Homo sapiens: one gene and its partner. The protein of the gene in region 1 interacts with the protein of each later gene in a pairwise test. Each region holds a gene or a part of one and is shown in the gene's direction. Other genes may lie near its edges.

What was found.
Region 2: the proteins of CD8A (region 1) and PTPRC come close enough for resonance energy transfer, tested with the Homo sapiens proteins (one study listed by BioGRID).

The regions. Positions count from the first base shown.
Region 1 is NC_000002.12:86,783,804-86,787,913, reverse strand, and holds the end of CD8A (T-cell surface glycoprotein CD8 alpha chain isoform 1 precursor), read left to right. Parts: intron 1-1,942; coding exon 1,943-1,994; 3' UTR 1,995-3,304; downstream 3,305-4,110. UniProt on the Homo sapiens protein: Integral membrane glycoprotein that plays an essential role in the immune response and serves multiple functions in responses against both external and internal offenses. In T-cells, functions primarily as a coreceptor for MHC class I molecule:peptide complex.
Region 2 is NC_000001.11:198,746,860-198,754,165, forward strand, and holds part of PTPRC (receptor-type tyrosine-protein phosphatase C isoform 1 precursor), read left to right. Parts: intron 1-1,249; coding exon 1,250-1,340; intron 1,341-2,556; coding exon 2,557-2,690; intron 2,691-3,632; coding exon 3,633-3,767; intron 3,768-5,389; coding exon 5,390-5,512; intron 5,513-5,734; coding exon 5,735-5,913; intron 5,914-7,306. UniProt on the Homo sapiens protein: Protein tyrosine-protein phosphatase required for T-cell activation through the antigen receptor. Acts as a positive regulator of T-cell coactivation upon binding to DPP4.

The DNA.
Region 1 (4,110 bases):
CACACACACACACACTCTCTCTCTCTCTCCCTCTCTGTTAAAAACCTCTCTCCACCCGTTGGCTGAGGCATCCCTGTGGTAGCATCTAACAAGTGCCTGCTCTAGTCAGGCACTGTGATAGGGGTAATACTCCCCATCTCTCTTAATCCTCACAGCAACTTTGTGCCATCTCATGGCTCAGGGATTAGTAAAGTGGCAAAGGCACATTAAACTCAGATTATCAATAGTAATAACCATTTGATGAAAGCCTACAACGCACGTTACTTGCTTTATAGATTTTTTTTAATTTTAAGTTTTATGACAACTTTTAAAGTAGTCATGATTACCTGCATTTTACAGATAAGGAAACTGAGGCTTAGAACATTTAGTGATTTGTCCAAGGTCATACTGCCCGGGAGCTGCAACTTCCATCCAAAGCTCAGACACCTTCCCCATGGCTGCAGGCTGAAGTGTTAAGGATAACCGACTGTGTACACCAGTTCTTTTCAGTAGATGAAATATTTTACATTTTATACCTGGAGTTTGCATTTTATACTCCTTTACATTTTTCTGAGGGAATCCAAGTTCAGGACTTTACACATTGTTGTTTTTAGCAATGGAAATGCAATGGATTTCCAATGCATATGTTACAGGTGATATACCAAGGGGATAAAGACTTTGAAAATGAGCCGGGTATTGTGGTGCATGCCTATAATCCGGGCTACTCAGGAGGCTGAGGCAGGAGAATCGCTTGAACGTGGGAGGCGGAGGTTGCAGTGAGCTGAGATCGTACCACTGCACTCCAGCCTGGGTAACAGAGCAAGATTCCATCTCACAAAAAAAAAAAAAAAAAGTGGGGGGGGAAGTTTTTAGCTTTTCTTTTCTTTTCTTTTCTTTTTTTTTTTTTTTTTTTTTGAGACGGAGTCTCGCTATGTCGCCCAGGCTTGAGTGCAGTGGTGCGATCTCGGCTCACTGCAAGCTCCGCCTCCCGGGTTCACGCCATTCTCCTGCCTCAACCTCCCAAGTAGCTGGGACTACAGGCACCCGCCACAACACCCGGCTAATTTTTTGTATTTTTAGTAGAGACGGGGTTTCACCGTGTTAGCCAGGATGGTCTCGATCTCCTGACCTCGTGATCCGCCCGCCTTGGCCTCCCAAAGTGCTGGGATTATAGGCGTGAGCTACCGCACCCGGCCAGTTTTTAGCATTTTTATTATTCAGGGTGCACTTTGGAACTTTTGCAGAAGGACCATCCCTTTTCTCGATCTTTTCTGAAAACTCTCATTTTGAGATGAATAACTGAGAATAAAGTTCTGCCTTAAAATACAAAGCTATACAGATTAAACACACCTGGGAAATTCCAACACCCGAGTTAATATACTCAGTGATGATGGTGGGCCGCTCAGCTTCAACAGAGAGGTTTTAGAGGGCTGAGAGTGCAGACATGACGCTCATGATGAATTAGCATGTTTACAAGGTGCTAGCCTGGTGCTGAATTAACACGTTTTTAGCGTAACATCATTTGGCTGATGGTGGTGATTTGCTCACATCCTCCTCTCTCCCTGTCATCCTCCGGGGCTGAGAATCAGGTCAGCTAATGACTTTGGTTATCAGTCTCACTCTCACACCTCTGTGGAGACCTTGACAGGGGCTCCAGGAAGCTAGACTAACTCGGTTTAGATCCTGGCTCAGCCACCTCCTAGATGTGTGACCTTGGGCAAGTTTAACTTCTCAATCTCAGTGCCCACCCTTAAGGCTGCTGTGAGGATTACATGAGATGGTGCAAGTAAGGCATTTAGCACGGGTGCTGTGCTGACGTCATTCACCCAGTCCCATGCTGGTGCCCCAGGAACAGGTTCTCAGACCTTTCAAAGGCTGGGGGATTGGGAGGCTGGACGTGGCTGGATGGATGCTGCACTGGCGGGGTTCTGGCTACAATGATGGTCGCTTTCCTCTCTTTCAGGCCTGTGGTCAAATCGGGAGACAAGCCCAGCCTTTCGGCGAGATACGTCTAACCCTGTGCAACAGCCACTACATTACTTCAAACTGAGATCCTTCCTTTTGAGGGAGCAAGTCCTTCCCTTTCATTTTTTCCAGTCTTCCTCCCTGTGTATTCATTCTCATGATTATTATTTTAGTGGGGGCGGGGTGGGAAAGATTACTTTTTCTTTATGTGTTTGACGGGAAACAAAACTAGGTAAAATCTACAGTACACCACAAGGGTCACAATACTGTTGTGCGCACATCGCGGTAGGGCGTGGAAAGGGGCAGGCCAGAGCTACCCGCAGAGTTCTCAGAATCATGCTGAGAGAGCTGGAGGCACCCATGCCATCTCAACCTCTTCCCCGCCCGTTTTACAAAGGGGGAGGCTAAAGCCCAGAGACAGCTTGATCAAAGGCACACAGCAAGTCAGGGTTGGAGCAGTAGCTGGAGGGACCTTGTCTCCCAGCTCAGGGCTCTTTCCTCCACACCATTCAGGTCTTTCTTTCCGAGGCCCCTGTCTCAGGGTGAGGTGCTTGAGTCTCCAACGGCAAGGGAACAAGTACTTCTTGATACCTGGGATACTGTGCCCAGAGCCTCGAGGAGGTAATGAATTAAAGAAGAGAACTGCCTTTGGCAGAGTTCTATAATGTAAACAATATCAGACTTTTTTTTTTTATAATCAAGCCTAAAATTGTATAGACCTAAAATAAAATGAAGTGGTGAGCTTAACCCTGGAAAATGAATCCCTCTATCTCTAAAGAAAATCTCTGTGAAACCCCTATGTGGAGGCGGAATTGCTCTCCCAGCCCTTGCATTGCAGAGGGGCCCATGAAAGAGGACAGGCTACCCCTTTACAAATAGAATTTGAGCATCAGTGAGGTTAAACTAAGGCCCTCTTGAATCTCTGAATTTGAGATACAAACATGTTCCTGGGATCACTGATGACTTTTTATACTTTGTAAAGACAATTGTTGGAGAGCCCCTCACACAGCCCTGGCCTCTGCTCAACTAGCAGATACAGGGATGAGGCAGACCTGACTCTCTTAAGGAGGCTGAGAGCCCAAACTGCTGTCCCAAACATGCACTTCCTTGCTTAAGGTATGGTACAAGCAATGCCTGCCCATTGGAGAGAAAAAACTTAAGTAGATAAGGAAATAAGAACCACTCATAATTCTTCACCTTAGGAATAATCTCCTGTTAATATGGTGTACATTCTTCCTGATTATTTTCTACACATACATGTAAAATATGTCTTTCTTTTTTAAATAGGGTTGTACTATGCTGTTATGAGTGGCTTTAATGAATAAACATTTGTAGCATCCTCTTTAATGGGTAAACAGCATCCGATTTTGGTTGTGCCATCATTTATTTAACTATTACCTGATATTTAGTTGTTTCCAACCTTTTCCTACTATAACACTCTTAAAATGTTGCATATATTTTTGTTTCTTTAGGATAAAGACCTAAAAGTAAAATTATTGAATCAGTCCCCACCTTCACCTGAGCCTGCCATTTTCACATCAATCAAAACAGATTAGCTTCATCCTGCATTACCCTTCTTCCTTTTGTTCTTTCTTGGTAACAGAGGAGACGATGCTCCTTTCATGATAAATCACTAAGTCATCTTGTTGTTGAGGTAAAATATTCGTACTGAAAATTGCTTAAGTCGTAAATGTACAGCTCGATGACATCATAAAGCAAACACACCCATGTAATCAGCCCTCCAGAAGTCTGTCGTTAGTTTTAAAACCAAGATACTTTTAGAGAATGGAAAGCAAGAGTGGCTTTCTGTTCTCTAAATGAAGTAGCCTATGTGTGAAAGCAGAAGAGAAAGCTGATAAATTACCCATGAGACAAATTCCCCATGTCGCTCCTCCCTGAGCCCAGCTGACAGGGCCAGGAGGTGCCCAGCACACCCAGTCAAGGCAGGTGCCAGGTTTTGAGGCCTCCTGTGGAAGCAGGGCCTGGGCTCGGGGCTATCTCTGAATTCCCTGGGAAGGATGAGCATCTCACAACAGGTCGCTCCCCTTCTCATGGGAGAAACTTGTGAAGTTGACCCTGGAGCACCAATGAATGTCAAAGAATCTGTGCCAGGGCAAAAACAGGAAAAGGGCATTTCTGCCAAAAGCAGCATTTCCTCTTCAACCT
Region 2 (7,306 bases), on another chromosome or scaffold:
ATGGTGGTGTTCAAGTGGCCTAAAATTCAGTGATGATATTTTCTTTCACTCAATTACGTAGCAAAGAATGAGGTTTGAAACAGGGTGCCATAATTAGTTTGAATGAGGGTACTATGCTGAAAAAATATATGTCTATATACACACACGTATCTACATGCGTGTGTGTGTATATAAAATCTTACCGAATTGTACATGAGGAGCCTTCTCAGTTTCAGTTATTTGTAACATTATCTATTATCATTAAATATTATTCACTTGACAAATACTTATTTAAGGACTAGTGGAAAGACTGTAGGCAGGGGTGTCTTCCAGAAGAAATTGGTATTTAAACTGATACCTAGAGGGTAAGAAAAGTTATTAGAGCAACCAAAAGGGGAAAGGGTAGTTCAAGCAAGAAAAAAAAAAAAAAGTGTTTATGTGCCAAGAGTTGAAGAACAGCTTGGCCCTTCCAAGAATTGAGGAAGCTGGTTTGGTAGAAGTATTGAGGGACCCAGTAAGGTGTAAGGCTGGAGAAACAGTCAGGGGCGTATCAATAAAGACTTTTTATGCTATTTTGAGGAGGTTTGTTGTCCTCTTATAGTGATGGAAAGCTGTTCATCTTCAGAAGAGCATCTTCTGTTTTGTGTTTTAGAAGGATTAGAGCAGGCGAGATTGAAGACAAAGAGGCCAGTTAGGAAATTGTTGATGTTTTACAAGCGAGAAATGAAGGCAGACTGGATTAAGTAGGAAGAAAGAAAACTAAAAGGATTTGTGTATAGAAATGATGGATCTTTTCTGACTAATTAGGAACTGTGGGTGAGAGGAAAGCAATCTGGAAGGTGTAAACAAATTAAGAATGAACTTTCAAAACATGTGCCAAGTCTCCTAAGAATGTGTTGTCTCCAAAGTTTATTTCTGATCATTTAAAATAACTTACCATTGCTTTTGCAATATAGATCAACATCGGTCTAGTGGTTTCAATTTATATAAGAACAAACTATATTATTTTTCTATCAAGCAGCTCTGAAGAAGGAGACATAGTCTGTTACATATATATCTTTAGTGCATACTAGCCCTGTCAAAAGGACTAAATGCCTGAGCAATTTAAAGAAAAAAAATCAGAGGCAAACCGAAAAATTATGGCCTATAGGGAGCATATGCAAATTTCACAAAAATTAATGAAATGCTTTTCCTTAGGGAGCATCTTATGATGCAATAAGCCAATATTTACATTTTAAAGGAGTTTTTCTGTTTTTTTTTTTTTTTTCAGAGACTTCCTTCATATAGGAGCTGGAGGACACAGCACATTGGAAATCAAGAAGAAAATAAAAGTAAAAACAGGAATTCTAATGTCATCCCATGTATGTAGTTTATTTTTTTATTTTTTGTATCAGATAAAGTTAAGCTCTTTTGGATTTGTTTAATGTGGGACACACAGTCATATAAATTATCTTGAAGCAAGTTTTCAACATTTGGTTGTTAATAGGGAAGAAGTTACTAGGTATTAAAATACTAGTTATTGCAAGAACTTATAATCCTGAACATTTACAATGGGCTTTGGAGGGTAGACTGTATTCAGTGTTTTCTTTTTACCAATTATTTCAGAAATGGGTTGTCATAAAAGAGAAATATATAAAGCTGGGAGAAAAAAGAGCAAGTCTCTTTTACCCATTTTCTTTCATTTTTAGTTTATTTCAGTTATTTACTCCAGGGTAATTGACAAATAGTAAAAATTACATCCATTTGTTCTCTATATGTTTCCTTTTTATCCCTTATAACTGGGAGGTTGAAAGTAAGGGGAAAATACTCTATAAATTCTAAATCTTCAAATTTAACAGATCAAAATATGCACAGTTTCAATACTTGAATTCTACTATTTAAGCATATTAAAATGATCACATATGGTAATTTTATTCAGCTGCATAAACTAAAATTAGCATGGATAAAATATAACACAAGTTGATAAATTAGATGACCAAATAAATCAGATCAGTGCATGGTTGACCTAGTTAATTTTCATAGGAGTCCTTATGAATGTAGTTTAAAATATGGAATTGATGGTGATATGGTTAATCAAATCATTTGACCAAGTTATTATAAATTATAGAAATTAAGAAACAGTGAGAAATTATAGGTCAAATAATTTTCTGGGCTAAATAATTAATCAAAGCTACCCATATAAGATTGTTAATTTAATATTACTGGAGTATAATTGAGGGAAAAAATCTACGCTATGTATTTTGTAAACTTATATCAAGCAGAATTATAATAGTCCATGGGAAATTAAAGTATATGTATCAAAGATTAAATAATCATATATAATGATATGATATCTCTTTGTTGTTTGACATGGAATTATGTTCCATGTTTTTTCCTGGAATCCTTTTTCTTAGACTTTTGTTGTATAATTTGTTTATCGACAAGTACTGAATTTTATATAGGATCTTATTTCATGTAGATCAGTAAGTTTTCATAATACAATCTGTCCCTTTTTAAATACTTTCAAATTTCCACATGACAATGAAGAAGAAATTTAATTTTTTCAAGGAAGACTTACTACTGATTTATTTCACATAGATGACTATAACAGAGTGCCACTTAAACATGAGCTGGAAATGAGTAAAGAGAGTGAGCATGATTCAGATGAATCCTCTGATGATGACAGTGATTCAGAGGAACCAAGCAAATACATCAATGCATCTTTTATAATGGTAGGTACTTAAATTGCCAAAACCCAAGATCCAAACATTTTAAAATAATATCTATGTTATTAGGGCCATTCATTAAGCGATTTTATAAAAGAATAATGAGCTTGGTCATAACTACATATAGATTGACATGAGAGTTTCAATTTCAATGCTACAATTTAACTTAATGAAAGATTTAAAAATACTATAACCTAATAACCTGAGACAAAATAAGATAATGCTATTGGTTATATTTTATGACAAATATAGCTATAATCACATCAATTTTAAAAATAGTAAAATTTGAGCAAATACAAGTATTTGAAAATGTTTATACATACTCAGATACCCAAATTGTAGGCAATGACAAATTTGTATATTTGTATGGTTAGAAACTTTTCATTCAGATAAACTGAATTATTAGGTGAGTCTGTGTCATATCCCCCCACTTTTTTAATTAACTGAGAATTCAAACAATGAAACTTTAGTCATTTATTAAATATTTATTATTTATACACTGTTGGATTTACTTATTTTCCAAAGTTTCCTAAAGCACACATTCATAGAATATTAGTTTAATTAGGAAATATAATAAGAATGTAAAGACACTAATTAAAATTAGTATAGACACGATGAAGGTAATTTGAAATGCTTAAGTAATTCCTTTTTACAATCACATTAACCTTTATAGAGAAACAAAAATGTGTGTCTTTTGTGGAAAGGAAAATTTGTTTCGCAAGATATGTTGTAATCTTGATTTCACATTATTAGCTAAGAATTACTATTATCTGTATAATTATTTTACATATAGCTATTACATTGTTTCTTGTAAGAAACATAAGAATATTACTATTTGTATGTAACAGCATTGATATCAAACTGACTATATTTCCAAATGGTTACTTTAAGAATCTACTGAGCTCTCTTCTGTAGTAACGAAGTCCCACCCTTTTTTTGTCTAAAAAGAGCTACTGGAAACCTGAAGTGATGATTGCTGCTCAGGGACCACTGAAGGAGACCATTGGTGACTTTTGGCAGATGATCTTCCAAAGAAAAGTCAAAGTTATTGTTATGCTGACAGAACTGAAACATGGAGACCAGGTTTGTACTTTTGAGGATTTTCTTTTAAGCCTTTCTGTCATAAAACGTCATTCTCTAGTCTTGGATTGCTTGCTTCATCGCCATACCCACGTCTTTTTTTATCCCTCCATCACATAATTCTGTCTGCTCAGTCTTACCCCTTTCACCCTGGTGTTGGCCTCCATCAGCTGTGTCTGGATTCTGACAGTCTCTCCTGTTTGTCCCCTCCAGTCTTGCATGCTGCTCACAGATTAGCCAGGATGCAGCAATGTCAGCGTCACAGCAAATAACAGCTACATTTTCACGCTGTTTTCCTCATTTTCTCAAGATAAAAGCCAAGATCTTTTTGTGATATCCAGCACCCTGGACAATCACCCCCTCATGTGTCTTTCATCTTCCTCCCATTTTTATGTTTTCCATCCTCTCCACTCTGGACAAGCAGGTTTCATGCCCAAGCCTAAACACGCCATTTGCATTGTCATCACTGAGTCTAAACTTATTGATATTCCATGTAACTAAATGTGTGCTGTCTTCCAGTTTTGACCCTATTCTTTTAACAAGACCAAACTCCTGAAAAATGTATCTATATCATCCTTTCTTTATTCCCATATAATATTTATTGCCATAAAAGTCTATAGTTGAAGGTGAATCTAAGCTATAATTTGATTTTTTTACTTAATGCTTGTGACAGATATTTTATCCTTTTCTTAATGTCTTCAGTTATTATTAAAATTTCCCTGGTGGTAGATCTCACTCAGCTTTAGCACCAACCACATTATCTGACATATGTTCAAGCCTATTCAGTGAATAACCTTATAAGTATGCAAAAGATTTATGCTTTTTTATGCCCCTCTCTCTCCCCTAAATCTCACTCTTTCTCACCCTCACCTGGTCCCCTTCCCCTGTACATGGAAAGTTGCTTTTTATGTTTTTTGTTTTAAAGGAATATAAGTCCAGATTTCTAGCATGGAATTCCCACAATCCTTTCCTTCATATAAATTGTGAAAGCTGGGAAACAGGATGGAAGTACCGGCAGGACTCCCTGTCTTTGTCAGAAATTGTGGGGTTGTAGTTGGTAGACAACAGTTTGTAGTAAGAAGAAACACTTTTGTGGTTCATCTACTCTTCAATCTGGCCCTTTCCTTAGCTATGTAGACAAAATATATAAAGCTGCTTATGGTGTTGGTCAACAAGATGACAGAGACAAAGCTCCAAAAGATGCAGCCTCCTTCCTCAAGAACCACTGAAGGGACAGTGGGACCTGAGTTATTGAAAGGGTCATGAATAACATTGACTCATGCCAGCCATAAATATTGAAGAGGTCATGATAAGCATGTGGAAAAGAGGAGCAAACCTCAAAGACCTACACTAAGGAAAACAGCTGTTCCGGGGGTGTCCCAGTCACCTCGATTGTGCTCAGCTTCCCTTTTCTTACACAAGGAAACACCACATATTTATTAAATGGGTCGCCAGCACTTAAATAGATTCTGGATTTTTATAAGTAGGTTTCAATTTTAGAACACAATAATTTTCATTTAATAGAAAAGAGGCACAGACAGAGAAAGAAAGGGAGAAAGAGGGAGACTGATCCTTTGCATATTTCAAATAGGAAACAAATTGTTGAATTGTCTTCTTTTATCTAGGAAATCTGTGCTCAGTACTGGGGAGAAGGAAAGCAAACATATGGAGATATTGAAGTTGACCTGAAAGACACAGACAAATCTTCAACTTATACCCTTCGTGTCTTTGAACTGAGACATTCCAAGGTATGGAAACAATTTGGGGAGTATATTTCTTTGATATAATGGATCTGGTAGCAAAATGAATATAAATTACTCTATGCAGGCAAGGCCATCATATAAATAATGTTTCAGAATAACATTTTAAAATTATTTAAATAGAAGTAACTGTGAAGAAAATATGACTATCAAATTAGAAAATAAGCTGAACTTCACTCCAGTTAATGCTCTCTTCAATTCTGATTTTAGAGGAAAGACTCTCGAACTGTGTACCAGTACCAATATACAAACTGGAGTGTGGAGCAGCTTCCTGCAGAACCCAAGGAATTAATCTCTATGATTCAGGTCGTCAAACAAAAACTTCCCCAGAAGAATTCCTCTGAAGGGAACAAGCATCACAAGAGTACACCTCTACTCATTCACTGCAGGTGCGTGGGATTTGGTAGAATGTGCTCTCAAAATCATAATGCTTGACTTCTCGGTTCACATGTTGTCTTATCTAGTTATCCTCATATATGAAACACATAACCACAGTAAAAACTTCTTATGGAGTCGGTCACTCTCTTGGTTGTTTCCACAACACAACTATTGTAGAAATATAATAGAAGTGATTATATTATAGTGCAATAATTTTAAGTTGTGTTTTTTAATACTTGGTGTCATGTCATCTTTGATTCCTTGGTAGCTAACATTGAGCCAGGAATGTCATTTGTGTGAATGAATTAATGAATGGAAGGGTGTGTGAACAGATAGGTAGATGGGTATCACCTTACACATATACCCATATACATTGATCTACTCTATTAGGTGTCACAAAGACACCTAATATGTTTAATGAACACAAAGTTTATTAAACATATTTTAAGTTAAATATTAACTGAAATCACAAAGCTTAGCAATTTTGATTTGAAACTCATTATTTAATTTTCTAAACTGAACCAAAGGCAAAGATTGTGGTAATATCAATAATACTACTAGATTTTATTAGTTTCTTCATCTGTGATAGGTGCTTACATATTCACCTTAAATAAGCAATATAATTGAAAGAAAGATATATAATATAAAAGTTTACATGAAAAAGAATATTGAAGTAAATGAGAAACGAAAAATAGTAAAGTAAAATGAGAAATGTTTATCTAGTGAAAAACTTTTGGAATTTTTGAAAAAGTCTAATTGTTATTATTGGAATTGCATATACTAGAATCAAGCCTTAAGAAATATATGAATTTTCAGCATTTATGTGGAAAGAAAGCTGAGGAAGGGAAGTTTACACTGTAAAACTATATATGTTTCTTAGAATATGATTTATGTACAATAACTAAAGTGTCCTGCTGATAACATATTGTTTAAATTGAATCTTTATGATAATGCTTTATACTTCTCATTGTTTGGTAAACTATTTGATTGCCCTCTTTTTAGTGAATAATTCTACTAGGTATTACTTTTCTACTGATGCAGAAGTGAAAACATTTGTGAAACGTGGTAGAGAGGCAGAAGAGTGAAGAAGAGCATGTGTTCTAGTAATTTACAAAATATTAGGTCTAATATTTCTGATTACATCAGCTTTCTCTTCTCCAAATCTTGGTTTCCTTATCTATCATACTGGCATTCTGATATTGGTTTCAACAACTTCAGATGTAAATAAAAATGCATTAAAATCCATAAAATACTAAATAAAAGAAAATATATTTGTAAAGTCGAAGACAAATAAGTTTTCAATTCCAGGATTATCACACTCTTAAATTGAAAAATTTGCCTAAAAATGCATTTAGCGTAAATAATTTGGTTCTTGAAAGAGGTTGGAATAAGATAATTATGATA